Regions from separate parts of the Homo sapiens genome. Here region 2 is linked to region 1. Evidence: fine-mapped expression QTL. A gene starts in region 1. The other region holds a variant in brackets. All regions are shown on one strand. Distances are from middle to middle. Region 1 holds the start of AKR1E2 (aldo-keto reductase family 1 member E2). Region 2 has its middle 55 kb from the start of AKR1C1.

Region 1 (10,228 bases):
TCGTAGTCCACTCTGCATCTTCCACAGGTCCTGACTCCCAATACCCTCCACATCCATTTCCTCTTCTCCCTCCCTCACCCACTGTGCCAGTGCAGGCCTTCATCATCTTCCACCTGCACTGCTGTTAATGTCTCCTACCTGGCCTCCTGCCTCTGCCTCAAATGCAAGCTTCTTTCACCTACTAAAATATCCTATATACAACACAAGTTGCACTCACATATGATACAAGCTGCCCTATTTAAAAATGAAACAGGGCTCCTCTGTCTCTAGGTAAAAGCACAGCTCCTGACAGGGCACAGCTGAACTTCCATGGCTTAGCCTATCCACCACTCAGCCTCACTTCTCATTACTCCTGCAACCTGACATTGTGTGGTCCAGAGAGACCAAGTGATTTGGTTTGGTTGTGTCCACAGCCAAATCTCATCTTGAATTGTAGCTCCCATAATCCCTACGTGTCATGGGAGGGACCCAGTGGGAGGTAACTGAATCATGGGGGCAAGTTTTTCCTATGCTGTTCTGGTGATAGTGAATAAGTCTCGTGACAACTGATGGTTTTATAAACGGCAGTTCCCCTGTACACTTTCTCTTGTCTGCTACCATGTAAGACGTGCCTTTGTTCCTCCTTCGCCTTTTGCCATGATTGTGAGGCCTCCCCAGCTATGTGAAACTGTGAGTCAATTAAACCTCTTTTTCTTTATAAACTACCCAGTCTCAGGTATGTTCGTACAGCAGCATGAGAACAGACTAATACACCAAGCTTCCTACAAACCCCTGCACCTGCCGTGCTGCTTCCTGCCTTATGCCTGTGCTCAAGCTGCTTCCTCCACACCCAGAGTTTCTCCTTCAACAGATGTGGGGTAGAATTTGGAATCTGCATTTAACAATCACCCCAGTGATTCTGAATTTAGGAATCGCTGTGTAAACAGACTTCATGAGGGCTAGGACTTTGTCCTATTCACCACTGTAGTCAAAGTGCCCATCACTAACTGAATTTTGATAATGTATTGTTAATTGGGGGATATCTGTGTACTCCTACCTGAATGACCAAGTAAATAATATGAAACAAACCTGCACACAATATAATTCAGCATGCTCATGAAGCTGTGAATATTCTTGTTTATTCCGATTTGAGTATGAAACAAAGTCATCAACTCCCATAAAGAAAGTAGAAAGCCCTCCAGAGATGTAGCATTACCCAAGCTCTGCCAGCCTTGCATAGAGAAGCCCTACCTTAGTGGCAATGAACAGATCCTCCCGTCTTACAGCGCCTTCCTTGATCTTGCAACGGATCCCTGCTCCAACCTCCCTCTCATTGTGGTAAAAGTAAGCACAGTCGAAGTGCCGGTACCCTGCGTCAATGGCCTCTTTCACTGCCTCGGTCACTTTCCCTGGAGAAGCCTGCAAAACCAACAAAACAAAGTGTCTTCTCACAGTCAGAGGAATCCAACACAAATCTCCCCTTTCACCCAAGCATGTGGACAACATAATACATAAAAAATTAAGTCACTAATTTGGTACTAGTATAATCAGTCTAAAAACAGGCAATATCAGTTATGAAGGAATTTATGAATAATCTAAGTTCCAACTCCTTTACATATTTTGGGAAAAAAAAACTATAGGTTATTTTTAGTGTCTGCAGAAAACTGAGCTAGATGGTATGCTTCCTGAATGATCAAAGCAATAAAAAAGTACAGAATGAATAATAACTGAGATGCAAAGAGGCTTAAGATTTATCCTGTATACTCAGATACCACAGCGTCCAATAATAAAGGCTGAGGTGTAGACTCACACGAAGGTATCCATACAAAAAGAAGTATATAACAAAACCTAAATGAATGTATAATGCTACAAGCAATAAGGTAGTTCAGAAAAGAGAACAGTCACTCTAAATGAAGCTCAGGCAAGGGAAGGGACTAGAACTAGGGAAGACTATGGGGGTGGGCGGGTTTGCAGTCTCATTAAACTGAAGACTGACAAGGGCTTTATAGTTCACAAACCACTTTCTCACTGGAGCTTCACGGTAACCCTAGGAGTTAGAGCAGCATAATTATCTTCATTTTATAGGCAACAGATTCAGAGTGGTTGAAAGCTAATGAACCAAGTATCCATCTTAAGTTAGAAAAAGAACCCAAGAAATTGGATGGAAAGATAAAAATATGATTAAGAATAACATCAATAAAATAGAAAACAAAGATGTAACAGAGAAGATCAACAAAACCAGAAGTCAGTTCTTTGAAAAACTTCAGTAAAATAAACAGACTTCTGGCTAGGTTGATGAAGAGGCCAACTTTTTAAAAAACTGACACGAATGGACAGTAAAACATGCAGATAAAATGGACTTAAAAGAAAATATTACCAATAACTATATGTCAATAACTTGGAAAAATGAGATAAAATGGGAAAATTCCTAGAAAAATTTAACCCAAGAATAAAGCTTGAATAGTTACATAATTATTAAAGAATGCAAGGAATTCAAAAAAAAGAGAAAACCACCAGTTTCATAAAATTTTCAAGAAAAAAATCATCTCAGTTTAACACAGACTTTCAAACAACAGAAAAAGACGGACTTATCTCAACTCATTCTACAAAACTAGCATAACCCTGAATCAAAATCAGACAAAAATATTAAAAGTCACACATTCATCTTATTCATGAATACCGTTGCAAAATTCATAAGTAAAATAAAAGCAAATTGGATGCAACAATATTTATGAAAAGATAATATACCACACCCATGTTGAGTGTATCTCAGATATCTAAGGATGGTTTGATATTAGAAAATCTGTAATTCATCAATATTAACAGATTAAAGTACAAAAACAAAAGTCAACTCAATCAATATTTGTTAAGATTCAATACCAGTTTAGATTCAAAATCTAAACTCCCAGTAAGTCGGGGAAAAGAATTAATCTGATAAAGAGTATCAATATTAAAAAATATCCATCTTACATCCTTTAAAATCAGGTACAAAACAAGAATGGCCACTGTGCTGGAGGTGCTTTCCAGAAGCACCTGAACAACTAAGAAGAAGCAATTTTAAGCTTAAAGAGTGGAAAAAAAGGAAAGTAAACTACCATTATTTGCTGATGATATGATCATTTGTGTAGAAAATCCAAACAAATGTAACACAAATTAACAGAAATAACAGTACAGTTTAGTAAAGTGGCTGGAAGTGTAATGAATATAGCAGGTGAAACAAGTAGAAAATGTAACTTCAGAGAAATATAATTTCCAGTAGTATAACACACTATCAAGAACCCAATAATAATTCCAACAAAAGACATATATTCTCTTCAGGAAAAACTATACAACCATATGAAAAGATGTTAGAAATGAACCATATTCAGGACAATTTATTAACAGAGAAGAATACCATGCTTGTAGAAAAGTTAAGATTTAACATTACAAAGGTGTCAATTATCTCCAAGCTGGTCTACAGATTTAATGTAGTTCCAATCAAAACCCCAATAAAGTTTCTCATGGAACCTTCTAAGCTAGTTCTAAAACTTACAGTGGAGAGTAAGGTGCCAAAATAAAAAGCCAGGACCCAGGTACATGCATCTGTCAAAACTCATCAAATTGTACACTGTAAATCTACAACAGCAGGGAGAGGTGACCTGCCCTACTAGGTATGGGCGCTTATCAAGGAACTGTAGTAATTAAGACAGCACCGATCAGGCACACAGATGGATCAAGTGGCCCCTAATAATGAAGAGCCCAGGCTGAGGTCTCCAGACATCTCACCGCTCCCCTTGCTCTCTTGTGCTTCAGCCATCATCTTGAGAACACTCCCTAACTAACCGCACGAGGACAGGAGATGTGCGGAGCCAAGTGGAGTAGCCCCAACCATCCCAACTGAGCCCAGCCAAGGTCCACAGAGCTGCTCTCCTGACCTCCCGTGTGGGAGGAATACACTTGCTGCTGTACACCACTGAGGTCTGGTGTTTGGCCATTGATGCAGCATTTCTGGGGCAACAGATAACGGATAGGTCTGTGATGTTTATTCACTATTAAAAATAGACGAGTAAAAATAAGCCTTTGCATAGACCAGTGATGAGTGATTATGATTAATCCAATTTGATGCACCTGCAGTCCAAGAAAAATAAATAGAATATTTTGACCTGTTAAGCACAGTTTTCACTAATTTTTCCTTATCCTGTGTGCACGAAAGTCTGGACTCCTGCACCAAATTGTTGCAGAAATAAAGGGAAGCAAGAGACTCAACAGTTTAATCCATCGAGTGCTTACTGAATGAAGGGCTGACAGATGCACGTCCTTCACTAGATGCTGAGAACCAATATGAACAAAACGACACTCCTAGCCTCTAAGAGTTGGTAAGCAGGTAAGAGAAATAATTTAAATAATATTTTCATGAGCAGGCCTTGAACATTCTGACTCCTTCAGTAACTAACTTCCTATATGACTTCTTATAGCTTTTATCAACAACTAAGTTTAGCTTTTTTTTTTTAAAGATCAAATTTTAAACGCTTTTTAGTCAGTGCTGTCTCAAATCACTGGCAGGAATTGTGAAGTTCAAAGCAGAGAAAGGTCGTAGAATAGAATGGTGGTTATAAGACGCTGGGGGCTGGGGGAGGTGAGGAAGGAGGGAATGGGGAGTTGCTGATCAAAGGGTACAAAGTTTCAAACACACAGGAGACACAGCTTTTAAGACTTACTGCGCACTAGGATGCCAACAGTCAACAATAATTTACTACACATGTGTATTTCAAAATAACAAGACATTTCAAACATCTTACCACAAACAATAATAACTGAGAGAGGTGATAGATATGTTAATTAGCTTGATTTAACCACATTGCAATTGTATACACGGCTCAAAACATTACGCTGCACCCCATAAATGCACAGAGCGATTATATGTCTCAGGCATCAGGGCAGGTTGCTTCTAAACAGGGAACAACATGAGATCCCAAAGTTTCTTTTAAAGCCTAATCAGCAATTCCAATTTTCCTTTTTTCTTTTTTTTTTTTTTTTTTCCAGCAAGGTCTGGCTCTGTCCCCAAGGCTGGAGTGCAGTGGCGCCATCAAAGCTCACTGCAGCATCGACTTCCTGGTCTCCAGTGATCCTCCCACCTCAGCCTCCTGAGTAGCTGGGACCACAGGCGCGCACCCCCAAGCCCAGCTGATTTGTTCATTTTTTGTAGAAACAGGGTTTCGCCATGTTGACCTGGCTGGTCTTGAACTCCTGAGCTCAGGCGATCCTACTGCCTCGGCCTCCCAAAGTGCTGGGATTACAAGCCCGCACCCCACGCCCGGCCCCAACTTTTCTTTCTCTCTTTGCTGGAGAGGAGGCTTCGAGGTTCCCTGTTCCGGCCGAGTCCAGCGCCGCCAAGGCCTCCCCTCGGCATCCCCGCTCCAGTTCTGAGTAACTTCAAGGGCTCCGCCTCTCCACAGAGCAGCCCCGCCCAACGCCGCGGCCGCAGCCCCAGAGTCTGAGGCTTGGCTGCCGAGGTTCCCGCTTCTCCCAGAGAGCGCCTCGGCGGGCAGCACCGACTCCGTTTTAGGAAAGGCCGGGCCGGGCTGCTTGTGGGCGGTGGGCGGCCACCTCAGCAGCGCCTTTCCCGGGCGTCGGCCAGGCGGAGGGGAGGCCGCCGCACTTCTCCCCAGCCCCGGCCTGGGTCCCATCGGGCGCCCCCAAGTCCCGCGCTCCCCTAGGTCAGGCGCGCCTCCCTGCCCGCGACCGCGTCACCTTCCAGGAGCTGAGGCCCACGGCTGGGATATCTCCCATGGCCGCCGCCGGCCGCCCCGCCGCCCCGCCGCCCCGCACGCGACTACCGACAGGCACCGCGCGAGCTACTGCGGCGCTGGCGACCCGCCGTTGCGACTGGCTGGAAGTGCCTTGTGACGGCTGACACTCCGACAATGGCTGGAAGCATGAACGCAGGGCTTCCTGACTGGCTGCTGGTGTCGCGCGCCGGGCACTGACTGGCTGGTTGTATTAAGGACGGGCACCCCGATTGGCTGGAGGCGCAGAGCCAGCTGGAGTCCCAAATGGCTGGAAGCACCGCGCTCTGGACATCCTGATTGGCTGGCGGCATAGACGACGGAATTTTCGATTGGCTTGCAGAGCCACGCAGGAGCAGGGAAGGTTTTACAATCGGCTGGCATTGCCGCTCACGCCCCCACCTTAGGTGTGACCTCCTGGTTGCCTTCTCCCTCGCACCGGGTGCATATGCGACTGAGGGTAGGGCAGAGGTGCTAGGTTGATGGGCAGAGAGTCTTCACCGTTCCAGGGCCTCGCCATGGCCGGGCCATCCTAGGGCAAGCTCTAGGGTCAGGGTGCAGAGTCCTGCGTCCCCTGGGGCACAGGGTGCGCGGGAGTGGGTCCCCGCTCTCTTGTACCAAGGATGGCCATTCTCAGGTGCCCCGAGGCCCCCAGTCTGGGAGAAGCGTGCCTGGCCTTGGTTCCCCGTCAGGGAGCCACTGTGCCCTTGGAAAATGCCTTCCACTCCCTGGGTCCTGGCCCAGAGCGGCTGGGGCTTGCAGGACAGCGGGGGTCCTGGGTGGTGCAGGGGAGGCCGAGCCCTGCATGTAGAGGGGAGCGTCCTTGCTTGCAGCCTCGGGCCCCCGTTTGGAAGTGGATGGGGTGGACTGGACACCCCCCTTATGAGTGGACTGGGCTCCCCCAGGGCCAGTGGAGGGAAAGAGGGGTCAAGGGAGCCTTCCGACGCCCCTCTTATCTCTCCTGGAGCTTACAGCTCCCCCTTCATTGCCCCCCTCAGCCCTGGGAGTCCTACTGCCTTGAGGACACCCACACCCAGATGAGGGCTTTGTTTCTAGGTTCCTTGCCTGGGTCTTCAGTGCTGGCCATCAGGGGAGGCGCTGCCCATTCTGCTCAATGGGGCGGCTGCAGCCAGAGAAACTCCCAGGGTCACTCTGGGTGTCCCCCTGCCTCCCACCCAACTTGCATCTCCTGTGAGCATCCATCTCCTCAATGTGAGCTCCTCACAGGTGGGAAGGGGGATCTTCGATACTCTCATTTATTCATTCAGAAACTGTGCCTGGAGCACTCACCTGTGCACGGGGCAAGTTAGGCCAGGGTGCAGTGCTGAAAATGACCTGCATGGGCCTTGCCCTCAGGAGCTCACCATCTGTAGGAATGAATGGACAGAGCATAAAAGCAAATGCATGAGAAAAAAAAAGAGCAGGTGCTATAGTAAAATAAAGCAGGTGCTTGTGGTGAGAGGCGGAAGGGACAGAGTGAGGGAATCCTCAACACCTCAATGAAGTGGCATTTATGCTGCAAACAGAAAGGCAAAGAGTGAGGGAACCAGCCCTGCACAAGTCTGGGAACAGTATTCCTGGGGGAAGCTCTACTGCACTGCAATCGTGTATCATGCTATTTCATTGTTTTAACAGAAATTCCATAAGTCTATGACGTTGAGCATCTTTTACTCTGCTTCTTTGCTATCTGTATATCTTTGATAAGGTGTGTTTTCAGGTCTTTTGCCCATTTTTTATTTGGGTCATTCATTTTCTTATTGTTGGATTTTAAGAGTTCTTTGTGTATTTTGGATAAGAGTCCTTTATTAGATGTGTCTTTGTAAATATTTTCTCCCAGTCTGTCTGTAACTTGTCTTTTCATTTCCTTGACATTGTCTTTAGCAAAATAAAAAAATTTTTATTTTAACGAAGTGAGCTTATCAATTATTTCTTTCATGGCTCATCCCTTTGATGTTGTATTTTAAAAGTCATTGCAAAGACATAAGAATTATATAATGGACTTCGGGGACTCAGGGGGAAGGCTGGGAGGGGAGTGAGAGATAAAAGACTACACATTGGGCACAATGTACACTACTCTGGTGATGGGTGCACCAGAATATCAGAAATCACCACTAAATAACTTTTCCATGCAACCAAACACTACTTGTCGCCCCAAAACAATTGAAATAAAAATTAAAATTAAAAAATCAGAGACTAGACAGAAAAAAATTAAAATAAAAATTAGTAAATTAGAATATCCTGGAACACAGTAATCAATATAAAAAATAAAAATAAAAAAAATCACTAAACCCAAGATCATCTAGATTTTCTCTTATTTTCTAGAAGTTTCATAGTGTTGTGTTTTACATTTAGGCCTTCGATCCACTTTGAGTTAATTTTAATGAAGAGTGTGAGATCTGTGTCTGGATTTATTTTTTTGCATGTGGATGTCCAACATCATTTGTTGAAAAGACTGAAAGTTCTCCAGTGTATTGCCTTTGCTCCTTTGTCAAACATCAGCTTATTATATTTGTGGTGATCTATTTCTGTGCTATTTTGTTCCATTGATCCATTTGCCTGTTTCATAAATACCACACTGTCTTGATTACTGCAGTAGATTTATTGTAAGTCTTGAGGTCAGGTAGTGTGAGTCCTCTAACTTTGTTCTTTTCCTTCAATATTGAGTTATCTATTCTGTGTCTTTTGCTTCTTCATATGAACTATGGATTCAGTTTATCCACAAAATAATTTAGTAAGATTTTGATGAGATTACACTGAATGTTTAGATCAGTTTGGGGAGAGCTGATGTCTTGACAATATTGAGTCCTTGTATTCATGAACATGGAATATCACTCGATTTATTTATTTATTTTTACATCTTTCATCAGAGTTTTGTAGTTTTCCTATATAGGACTCATATGTATTTTGTTAGATTTATACATAAGTATTTCATTTTCGGGGGTGCTAATGTAAATGGTACTGTGCTTTTAATTTCAAATACCACTTGTTGAATTCTGGTATATAGGAAAATAGTTGATTTTTGTATATTAATCTTGTCTTCTGCAACCTTGCTATAATTGCTTAGTAGTTTCAGAAGCTTTTCATCAATTCTTTGGAAATTAAATTAAGATAGCAAATAATGTCACCTGTGAACAAAGACAGTTTAATTTTTTTCTTCCCAAACTGTATATCTTTTTTTTTTTTTTTTTTTTTTTTTTTAGACAGAGTCTCACTCTGTCACCCAGGCTGGAGTGCAGTGGCGGGATCTCGGCTCACAGCAACCTCTGCCTCCTGGGTTCTAGCGATTCTCCTGCCTCAGCCTCATGAGTAGCTGGGATTACAGGCATGCATCACTATGCCTGGCTAATTTTTATGTTTTTAGTAGAGATGGGGTTTCATCTTGTTGGTCAGGGTGGTCTCAAACTCCTGACCTCATGATCCACCCTCCTTGGCCTCCCAAAGTGCTGGGATTACAGGCGTGAGCCACTGCACCCAGCCTGTATACCTTTTAGTTCCTTTTTTGTCTTATTATATTAGTTAGGATGTCCAGTACAGTGTTGAGAAGGAGTGGTGAGGGGACATTTTTTGCCTTTTCTTGGTAGAAGTGCTTTTTAACAGTACAGTTTCCCCATATGTGCCCTATTGAATCAGAAGGTTATGGTGGGTGTTTGGGACCTTTGGTCTGGAAGATTTCTAACGGCCTCATTGACAGATGCATTTGTATGTCATGGTATAACTTCACACTCAAAATACTTTTGTCTTTGTTATGGCATTCTGCTATAGCTGCTAAGATGCTGAGGCTTAAGAAATTCTTCATGAACACTTATTACCTCGCTCTCAGCTATTGTCTTTTTACCCTTGTCACTGTCTTTAGTGGATACTGGGATTTGCTGATTGTAATTGTCGTCCTGGTGATCTGCTTCCTGTGTGATATACTAGATCCATTAGTGTCTCCTGCATATCCCGTGGCTGGGGGTGTGGAGAGTAATAGATAAGATAGCCTCCCATGGAAGTAGCTAAAGGGTTTGTGTGTTTGGGAGACGAGATTAGGAAAGTTCACAAGTAATAATATAAACTAGAATAAAAAAATAGCGTGGGATAAATATAAATGATATTCAGTGGGACTCTAAAAGGAAGAAATTGTATGAAGTTGTGAGGGATAAATGATTATTGAAATCAGCCTTCAAGATAAGAAGTACTGATGAATAGAAATGGGGAGAAATAATTTTTTGGTGGTTGAGCAGTTTTATTTAAAGATTCTCAACATATAACACATTGTCAAGGGAAAAGGGAGCATGAATATGAAGTGCAGCATGAACACACTTTTTAAAAGTGCATTTTGGTAGCTCCATGGATAGCCTGTTCTTAAGGATGAGGGAAGTTAACGCTGGGAGTGAGTGAATATTTTAGGTTTAGATATAGGCATTTCTTTATCTAGTTGCTTTATTGGGTATCTTACACTGAATAATAATGTATAGGGAATAGTCTCTCTGGGGCATCTTTGC
Region 2 (10,474 bases), 81 kb before region 1:
TTATATACACTTAAAGAAATTGTATCCAATTAAAAACAAGTCAGTTGGAATTTGAAATAGAATTTCTTGGATATATATATATTATTTTATGAGATTTACATTTTAATAGATTGTCTTCTCATCCAAAAATGTTACATTTTGTTTGTTCAGACCTTATTATATGCCTTCAATGATATCACATAGTTTTATTCTGTGGAATCTCTAGTAATCCTGTCAACTTTATTCCTAAGTATTTTGAAGTTGTTATCTGAGTGAATGCAACTTTTATTCATTTCCAATTCTAGATGCTTTGGCTCAAGTTTTGTGCATTTGTTTTGTATACAGTCACTACAGAAGTTTCCAGTTTATTCTACTGAGTGTTTTTTTTACTAGGATCTCTCGAATTTTCTAGTTGTATTATAATAATATCCAATATTTCACCAGTTGTTCTCTTTTGATATTGTATTTGCAGCATCCAAGACAATTTTACTATAGTTAGCCAGTTCTAAAGTATATATATTTTCACAGTTTAACATGTCTAATTCATGGCACCTTAAAATAATAATTAGCATTTTTCTTTCTTAGAGGTACACAAAATAATGCTCTGTAATTAATAGTGTCTGGTACTTGACAAAAATGGCAATAAAAATTTTAAAGCTGGACGTGATGGCTTACACCTGCAATCTCAGCACTTTGGGAGGCTGAGGTGGGCAGATTGCTTGAGCTCAGGAATTCAAGACCAGCCTAGAAAACATAGTGAAACACTGTCTCTACAAAAAATACAAAAATTAGCTGGGTGTGCTGGTGCGCAGCTGTAGACTCAGCTACTGAGGAGGCTGAGGTTGGAGAATCACTTGAGTCCTGGAGATTGAGGCTGCAGTGAGCCATGATCGCACCACTGCACTCCAGTCTGGGTGATAGAGTGAGACCTTTTCTCAAAAAAAAAAAAAATAAATAAAAATTAAAATGGTGATGTGATCTCTTTATTTGTACATTTTAATTCAATATTTTGCAACAGGAAAATTTACTGGGTGTTTTGGTAAATTATTTTTATTTCCATTTAAATAATTACTCAATTTATATTTTAGTTATAGTTTTATTTGCCTAAAATATCATTAAGCATCTATAGATATAAATTTATGTTTTTATTCTTTTAAAATTTATTGATGTCATAAATTATGTTACTAGATCTCCAGATATAAAAAATAATTATAACACTGACATTAAAACTTACAAATTGGCATATTATTTTATTTTATACAGTCTTGGATTCTATTAAGTAATATTTTTATTTAGAATTATGCATTTAGGCTCATCAGTGTAATTGAGCTATACTTGTATTTTTTCATTTGTTATTTTTTAGGTTTATTATCAGTTATGCTAGCCTCATAAAATAGAGAGTTTTCCATATCTTTTCCCACAGCCTGAAGTACCTTAAATAAATTTGAAACTATATTTTTGCAAAATTTTGGTCTTAGGAACACTTTATACTGTTAAAAATTATTGAGGACCCCCAAAGCTTTAGTTTACATGTGCTACATCCATTGATAGGCACCAAATTAGAAATTTAAACTAAAAAAAACTTTTAAATATTTATGCATCAATTTATTTAAGAAATAAACCTATTACCTATTAGCATAAATAATACATTTTATAACAAAATACAATATTTCACCAAACAAAAATCATTGAGAGAAAAATGATGTGGTTTTATAATTTTGAAAATCTCATGAGTAGCTTCACAGAGGACAGCCAGAATCTCAAATCTGCTTCTGCCTTAATCTGTTGCAATGTCATACACTGATGCAGAATTTCTGCTCCTTAGCTCAGATAAATCCAGGTTCTTGTATTATGATCAGAAAAATTTAGGCACATGGACAAATTGAAGGCTGAAGAGAGCAGAATTTTTTGGACAAAAAGGAAAAAAGAGAAAAAAAGTGAGGGGGGTCCTGCTAACAGGCTACCATCTCACAGATTGAGTACCAGGCCACCACACAGGAGCTAAAGAGGCCAGGCCCCTCCCCCTTGCACATGGCATGAACTTCCCATGGCTCCACTCCACTCTCCCAGCAGGCAGGCAAGTCCCCAGTCCGTTGTGGGCATGTGCAGACAAGACCCTGGGCACGTTCCCTCATCTATACAAAAGCATCTGATGTAAACACTTGTGGGGTGGCTTGGAGATTCTCTAGGGACCCTCCCTCAGCTGCCTCCTGCATCTATCATTCCCCACCTAAAGAAATACATCTAATGGAGCTGTTAGAGTAAGGATAAGGATAAGGCAAAGACAAATCTGAAGTGCGTCCTGCTGACAAGGGGTACTGTTTTGGGAAAACAGCAGTCAGATCTCCCTCAGAGTTTGATCTAAGGGTTCCCAGTAGAAGAGGGCATTGTCCAGGGCTCTAGTTGCATGACTGGTTGGAGTTTGTTGGCCTGAAGGTGAGAAGAGACAAACTGGGTTATTAGAAAACATGTATCAAAAGAAAACAAGGTGGGATAAGAAGAGCTCAAAAATCCTGAGGCCTTTTACTGGTTTGCACTGCAAGCGGGAGCCTTAAGAGCAAGGCTAGGAAAACATGCAGTTTCTAGGGCCTAATAAACAGGTATGGCTGGAAGACAAAACAGATTTTGAGAGGGCTCCATCCGCCTCTAATTCCTGAGGCTGCATGAGGAAATCCGAGGTCTCTCCCCACTCATGAGTATATTATGAGTGGCAAGGCAAAATGGAGAAAAATAATTCAGTCAAATGAGAAAAAAACCTTTTTCCAGGAAAGCAAGAGCCAAGAAGAAAAAACATAAAGGCCTTTTAAATATACCTGTAACTTGGACATTCACTTTTAATTAAGCTGAGCGCTCTTTAAGAAAACCCTTTATATCCCTGTTACCCCACTTTAGCTGTGCCAAGAGGCCAATATTTCTGGCTTTCAAACTTTACTAAAGGCTCAGGAAAAGGAAAATCCAAGGCAGTTTGTAGAATGGAAGACAATCAACAAATGGCAAAAGTCACACAGATATCAAACCAGAAAAGACTCATTCCCTAAGCCAGGATTGAACGTAGGCTGCCATTGCAAAATGGCAGAAGCTAAAATAAAGCACTACCATGTGGTTACAGGTCACAATTCCAAGGATGTAAAACAATATGGAGGCCTGCAGCAAAGTTTGCTGTTGACCATACAGAAAGACATGCAGAGCACACCAGATTGGCTGCAGCTTAAGACCAACCTTACAAATCCTTTTTTATAATTCAAACTTTACAGAGAATATAAACAGTGACAGCTGGGGCCCTGGCCTAGTAAAACGTTTTCTAAAAGGGGGAAAAAAGGTCTCACTTAAAAGTTAACTCCTGACCTGGTGGAGAAAAGAAAAAAAGCTTAAAGTGCAGGGGTGGGAAGATGTTTTTTAATTATGCAAATGGTTCCTACAACAGAGAGAGAAATTTAATTACTGTCTGATGGAGCTGGACCCCTTGGCCAGGGGTGGGGAAGACTCCGTAGATGCATTGCAGGGAACACTGGCCAGCTTGCCACATGGGGCCTGGGTCCCTGAGGCCACTTTGGGGCCCAGGCAGTGGCTGTGGCTCATTTCTGCCCAGCATGGCCGTTAGACACCACACGCACCTGTGGCAGTTATGGCCATGCATCCCAGTCAGGAGCGAAGGGGGGCAGGGAGCACCTGTGGCCATTGAGGTAGGGTGGTACACAGTTTCCTCTATCCTCATAAGAAGTCCGAGTACAAAAAGGCTTAGAAACAAAAGGGAAAATGATTTTTTTGGTTCACATCTTACTCACCCTTCCTCATGTCCCTGTACACGCCACCAAAATGATGCAGAATTTTTGCTTCTTAGTTCAGCTAAATCCCGGTTCTTGTGTCATGACCAGGATAAATGAGGCATGTGGACACATTGAAGGGTGAAGAGAGCAGAATGTATGGGCAAATAGGAAAAAGGAGAAAAAAAAAGCTGTCAGCAAATTGAGAGGGACTCCTGCTAACATGCTACCACCTCACAGATTGAGTACCAGGCCAACACACAGGACCAGAAGAGGCCAGGCTCCTCCTGCTGCACAGGCCATGAACTTCCTGTGGCTCCACCTTATTCTCCCAGTGCACAGGCGGGTCCCCAGTCCATTGTGGGCATGTGCAGACAACACCCTGGGCAGGTTCCCTCATCTGCACGAAAGCATCTGATGTAAACACTTGCGGAGTAGGTCGGAGATTCTCTGGGGACTCCCTCGACCCCCACCTTATCTGCGTCCTGCATCTATCAATACCACATAAGCCTCTGGGAAACTCCACTGTACGTTCACAAAAGAATGAGAGTAAAAAAGAAATAGGTTCTTAGTATTATCATAAGAATAATTTTTACATCATGCCCCCAGAAGGATTCTAGGGACCCCATAGGTTCTGGTACCAAACTTTGAAAACCACTACTTTAAAGTTTAGATAAAACCAACTCCCTATAGTCCTTTGTCACTACAGAACCTGCCTCTTTAATATTTGAAATTAGACAGATGCACTACAGTAAATATAAGTAGTCCCAGAAGAGAAAAGTGGTAGGGAAAAGCAACACAATACCCAGTTTGAATTACTATAGGGAAAAGAAAGTCTGCACTCTTGGTATAGGTAAGTGTTCATGAAGGAAGCTTGGTTTTGACACAGTAGGAGGTTGAGA[T/C]TGAAGGAGTCGCTGTGGGTAATATTGGATCTTGAGTGAATTAATTCTTCAGTCACAGTTGTGTCTAGAGAAGTAGCTCTTTAATAAGGTAGGCATATTTAAAGCCCCTAATGACAGAACAGGTGATATTTCTCATATAGAATCAATACATATAATTATCTTGCTCTCTGAACACGTTTTCTTGCTATAGGAAAACTAGAAAGATGAGCTGAAAGATAGGGAACAGAATGCTGAAAGGGAAGGGAAGGTTGATATTGGAGGCAATTTTGAAAAACTTCAAAAAGACACCAAGCATTAGATCTTACCTTGTCAGAGAATCACTTAACACAGCCTTTTGACAGTTGGTTAGAGTAGGTTCAAAACACGTTTTTGTGCCTGGAGAGAAATAATATCTACAATTAATTTTGCTTAGTTTTACACCAAGTTGATTGACTGTATCCTACCAATTAAAACACAGAAAGTAGTTTTTTCTGAATATTTACACATTGATTAAAATTTTGAAAAATCAAGTTTTCTTAAACAGTTTGTGGTGAAATTAAGAATTTTATATACCTGTAATTGCCCAGTGGGTTAACCTTGCCCACTCCCTAGACAGAGTCTATTTATCAAGACGGGAGAATTGCAATGGAGAAAGAGTAATTCCCGCAGAGCCCACTGTGTGGGGGACTGGAGTTTTATTGTTTATTATTAGATCAGAGTTTGTCAAGATAATCTAGCAGGTAGAGGCTGGGGAAGTGGGGAGTGCTGCTGATTGGTCAGGTTGGAGATGGAATCATAGGGGGTTGAAGGGTGGTCTTCTTGCTGTCTTTTGTCCCTGGGTGGGATGGCAGACTGGCTGAGCAGCTATATTATTGGTTTGGGTGGTGTCAGCTGATCCATGGAGTACAGAGTCTGCAAAATATCTCAAGTGCTGATCTTCACTTTTACAATAGTGATGTTATCCCCAGGAGCAATTTGGGTAGGTTCAGACTCTTGGAGCCAGAGGCTGGATGACCCCTAAACCATAACTTCTAATATTGTAGCTAATTTGTTAGTCCTGGAAAGGCAGACTGGTCCCCAGTCAAGAAGGGGGTCTTTTCAGGAAAGGGCTGTTATCAATTTTGTTTCAGAGTCAAACCATGAACTGAATTCCTTCCCATAGTTAGTTTGGTGCACGCCCAGAAATGAGCAAGGATAGCTTAAAGGTTAGAAGCAACATGGAATCAATTAGGTCTGATCTCTTTCACTGTCATGGTTTCCTCAGTTATAATTTTTGCAAAGCCAGGTTCATAGCTGATAAAACTGGCTGCAGATAAAACATACAAATGCAAAGATTGTAAAATATGTTACTATACTGACACTTAATCCTTTTTTAAAAGACCGTAATTTTTAAGATTATTTCTAGATTAGTTTTGTAACCTTCTAGGGGTATGGCTATTATAAAGAACTCCAACTATGATAAACTCAAAGAAACTTACACCAAAACACATTATAATAAAATTATTTAAAAATAATAAAAAGAGAGAGAGAACTTTAAAGGCAGTAAGACAGAAGCAACCAGAAACCTTGGAGGCCAGAAGGCAGTAGGTTGATATATTCAAAATACTGAAAGAAGTACATTAGAAGAAAAAAAAAAGTCAACTGAGGATTCTGTATCTGACAAAACTGCCATTCAAAAGTGAGGGAGAAATTAAGATATTTCCAGATAAACAAAAGCCGAGGGAGCTCATTACCTCTAAACCTGCTCTGCAAGAAATACAAAAAAGGGTCCTTCAGGTTGAAATAAGAGAAGCTAGACAGTAACTTAAAGCCACTTGAAGAAATCAAATCTCCAGTAAACATAAATACATGGGCAATTATAAAAGCTACTACTATTTTCATTTTGGTTTGTACATCCTCTTTTTATTTTCTACTAGATTTAAAATACAAATTTGTTAAAATAACTTATAATGTATGCTATTGGGCACACAATGTATAAAGATGTAATCTATTACATTATAATAAAATAGTGGACGGAGCTGTTACGAGCAGAACTTCTGTAAGCTTTTGAAGTTGTTGGCATAAGTTTATATTAGATTGTTATAACTTTAGGAGACTAAATGTAATTTCCATGGTAACAAAGAATGTATCTACAGAAGCTACACAAAAGGAATTGAGAAGGGAATCAAAATGTTTCATTAAAAAATTAACTACACACAAAGGAACATAGGGACGAAAGAAATGAGGAAGAAGAGAGCATAAGATATATAAGAAACAGAGAGAAAAGTGGCAGATGTAAGCCCTTTCTTATTAATAATTAACTTTAAATAGACTACACACTCCAATCAAAAGACAGAGATTGGCAGGATGGATAAAAAATTGAAACCACCCCAACTATATGATGCCAAAAAAGAGACTCATTTTAGATCTAAAGACACAAATAGCTTGAAGGTGAAAAGATAAAGAAAGATATTCCATAGAAATAATAACTACAAAAGAGATGGACTGGCTATATTAATATCAGATAGAATTGCCTTTAAATCAAATTTACAAGAAACAAAGAATAAATTATATTTTAATAAAAGACTACAGCAAGAATATATAATTCTAAACATTTATAGATCTAATAATAAACCCTCAAAATATATATAGCAAGAAAGTGACAAAATAGAAGGGAAAAATATACAGTTCTACAATAATAACTGGAGACTTCAATACCCCACCATCAATAGATGATTGAGCAACCAGACAGAAATGAAGAAATAGAGAACTTGAACAATACAATAAACCAACCAACTACACCTAATTAATATATAAAGAACACTCCACCCAACAAGCACAGAGTACACATTCTTCTCAACTGCACATGGAACATTCTCTAGGATAAACCCTATGCTGGGTCACAAAACACATCTCAATAGATTTTAAGAGATAGCTATTATATTAACTACCTTCTCTAACCACAATGAGATAAGGTAGATGTCAATAACAGAAGGAAAACTGGAAAATTCACTATTATATGGAAATTAGATGAAATAGTCTTAAATAATCAATAGGTCAAAGAAGAAATTACAGGGGAAATTACAAAGAACTTGGAATACAAATGAAATCACAACATTCCAAAACTTATTAGATGCAGTAAAAGTAATGCTCAGAGGGAAACTTATAGTTGTAAATACGTACATTGAAAAGAAGAAAGACCTCATATCAATAACTTAATTTTACATCATAAGAAGCTAAAAAAAAGAACAAGCTAAATTCAAAGCTAGGAGATGGAAGGAAATAATAAGGATTAGAGTGAAAACAATAAAAGATACTTGAGAAACAATACAGAAAATTCATGAAAAGAAAAGTTTGTACTTAAAAAAACCAGCAAATTGTCAAAGCTTTAGCTAGACTGACAAAAATATAAAGAGAGTAAATGCAAATAATTAAAATCATAAATGAAAGTGAGAATGTTACCTTATAAAATAAAAAGAATTATAGGAAAATGCTATCACAATTGCATGTCAATTAATAAGGTAACCTAGAAGAAATGGACAAATTCCCTAAAACACACAAATTATTTAAACTAATTGAAGAATAAATAGAAAATCTCAACAGAACTGTAACAAGTAAAGAGATTTAATCAGTAATCAGAACCTCCCAGTGGGGAAAAGTTCTGGACCAGATGGCTTCACTGGTGAATTCTACCATGCATTTAAAGAGAAATAATACCAATCCTGAAATGCTTCCAAAAACTTGAAGAGAAAGGAACACTTCCAAACTCATTCTATGAGGCTATCATTACTCTGATACAAAACTCAGATAAAGTTATTGCAAGAGAACTGTAGACCTTTATTCCCTGTGAATATTTATTCAAAAATCTGCAGTAAAATATTAGAAAATCCAATCCCATCACATATTAAAAGGATTATACATCATCATCCAATGGGACTTTAGGAACACAAGGATGGTTCAAAGAAGAAAATCAATTAATGTAATAAAACAATTAATATAATAAAGGTAAAAAACACACATAAAAGCCATATGTGAGAAATTCAAAGGGGAAAGACTGGAAGTGTTCCCCTTAAGGTGAGGAACAAGACAAGGATGCCTGCCTTCATCACTACTATTTAACATTGTAATGGATATTCTGGCTGGAGCTATCAGACAAGAAAGAGAAGTAAAAGGAATCCTCTCTTCACAGACGATATGACCCTACATGTAGAAAATCTCAAATAATTCATAAGAAATCTTCTAGAGTTAATAAATAAATTCTGCAGAGTTGCAGAGTATAAGATCAACACACAAAAAAATCAGTTGTGTTTCCATACACCAACAATGAACAACTCAAAAGGAAATTTTTTAATAGGTACAGAGTTTTTGCTAAGAATGACAAAAATGTTTTGGGTATAGAAATGGTGATGGTCACACAACATTGTGAATGCATTTAATGCCACTGGATTATATGTTTATGAATAGTTACAATAATAAATATTACATTGTATGTATGTGATCATAATTTTAAAATAAGAATTTATAGAAAAATAACTACAGATATAATAATACCCACTAACTATACAGAACTATGGCCCACAAGCCTAACGTGCTGCCCAGTTTTGTATAGCCCATGAGCCAAAAATGGTTTGTATATTTTTTAGCGATTGAAAATGTAAGAGATTTATATTATTTCATGCCATGTAAAATTACATGAATTAAAACTTTCAGTGTTCATGAATAAAGCTTTATTGAAATATCCCCAAAAAGACCAGCTGAAATTGCTGAACTTGGATAATTGATTAATTGATATTGTTTCTCAGCAGGTCCTATGTAGGGAAAAGAAAGAGAGATCAGATTGTTACTGTGTTTATGTAGAAAAGGAAGACATATCAAACTCCATTTTGATCTGTTCTAAGAAAAATTGTTTCTGCTTTGAGATGCTGTTAACCTGTAACTGTAGCCCCAACCCTGTGCTCACAGAAACATGTGCTGTATTGAATCAAAGTTTAATGGATTTAGGGCTGTGCAGGATGTGCCTTGTTAACAATATGTTTGCAGGCAGTATGCTTGGTAAAAGTCATCGCCATTCTCCATTCTCGATTAACCAGGGACACCATGCACTGCAGAAGGCTGCAGGGACCTCTGCCCAAGAAAGCCTAGGTACTGTCCAAGGTTTCCCCCCACTGAGACAGACTGAGATATGGCCTCGTGGGAAAGGAAAGACCTGACAGTCCCCCAGCCCGACATCCCACCCATAAAGGGTCTGTGCTGAGGAGGAGTAGTGAAAGAGAGAGGCCTCTTTGCAGTTGAGATAAGAGGAAGGCTTCTGTCTCCTGTTCGTCCCTGGGAATGGAATGTCTAGGTGTAAAGCAGACCAATCCCATTGGTTCTATTCTGAGACAGGAGAAAACCGCCCTGTGGCTGGAGTCGAGATATGCTGGCAGCAATACTGCTCTGTTACTCTTTTCTACGCTGAGATGTTTGGGTAAAGAGAAACATAAATCTAGCCTACGTGCACATCCAGGCACAGTACCTTTCCTTGAACTTATTCATGATACCGATTCCTTTGCTCACATGTTTCCCTGCTGACCTTCTCCCCACCTGTTGCCCTGCTACACTCCCCTCGCTAAGATAGTAAAAATAATGATCAATAAATACTGAGGGAACTCAGAGTCTGGTGCCGGTGCGGGTCCTTCGTATGCTGAGCGCTGGTCCCCTCGGCCCACAGTTCTTTCTCTGTACTTTGTCTCTGTGTCTTATTTCTTTTCTCAGTCTCTCCTCCCACCTGAATCGAAATACCCACAGGTGTGGAGGGGCTGGCCCCCTTCAGTCCTAAGCGTGAGTCCCTTTCCCAGGATGAGTCAATCCCAAGGCCACAATCATCAGGCC

What was found. PIP is the estimated chance that this variant, and not a neighbour inherited with it, causes the effect.
Region 2: its variant is the best candidate, but not a certain one, in a credible set for the expression of AKR1E2 in skeletal muscle (GTEx, PIP 0.59).

Annotation. Positions count from the first base shown.
Region 1 is chr10:4,821,845-4,832,072 of GRCh38, reverse strand. It overlaps AKR1E2 (aldo-keto reductase family 1 member E2), which reads right to left and starts at 5,866. Exons shown (of 10, transcript NM_001040177.3): 1 at 5,710-5,866; 2 at 1,231-1,398. The coding sequence starts at 5,748. RefSeq lists a silencer at 5,360-5,439.
Region 2 is chr10:4,902,897-4,913,370 of GRCh38, reverse strand. It overlaps the pseudogene AKR1C6P. Among named protein-coding and RNA genes, the nearest start is that of AKR1C1, 55 kb to the left of the region's middle. The variant T/C (reference allele first, on the strand shown) is at 4,646.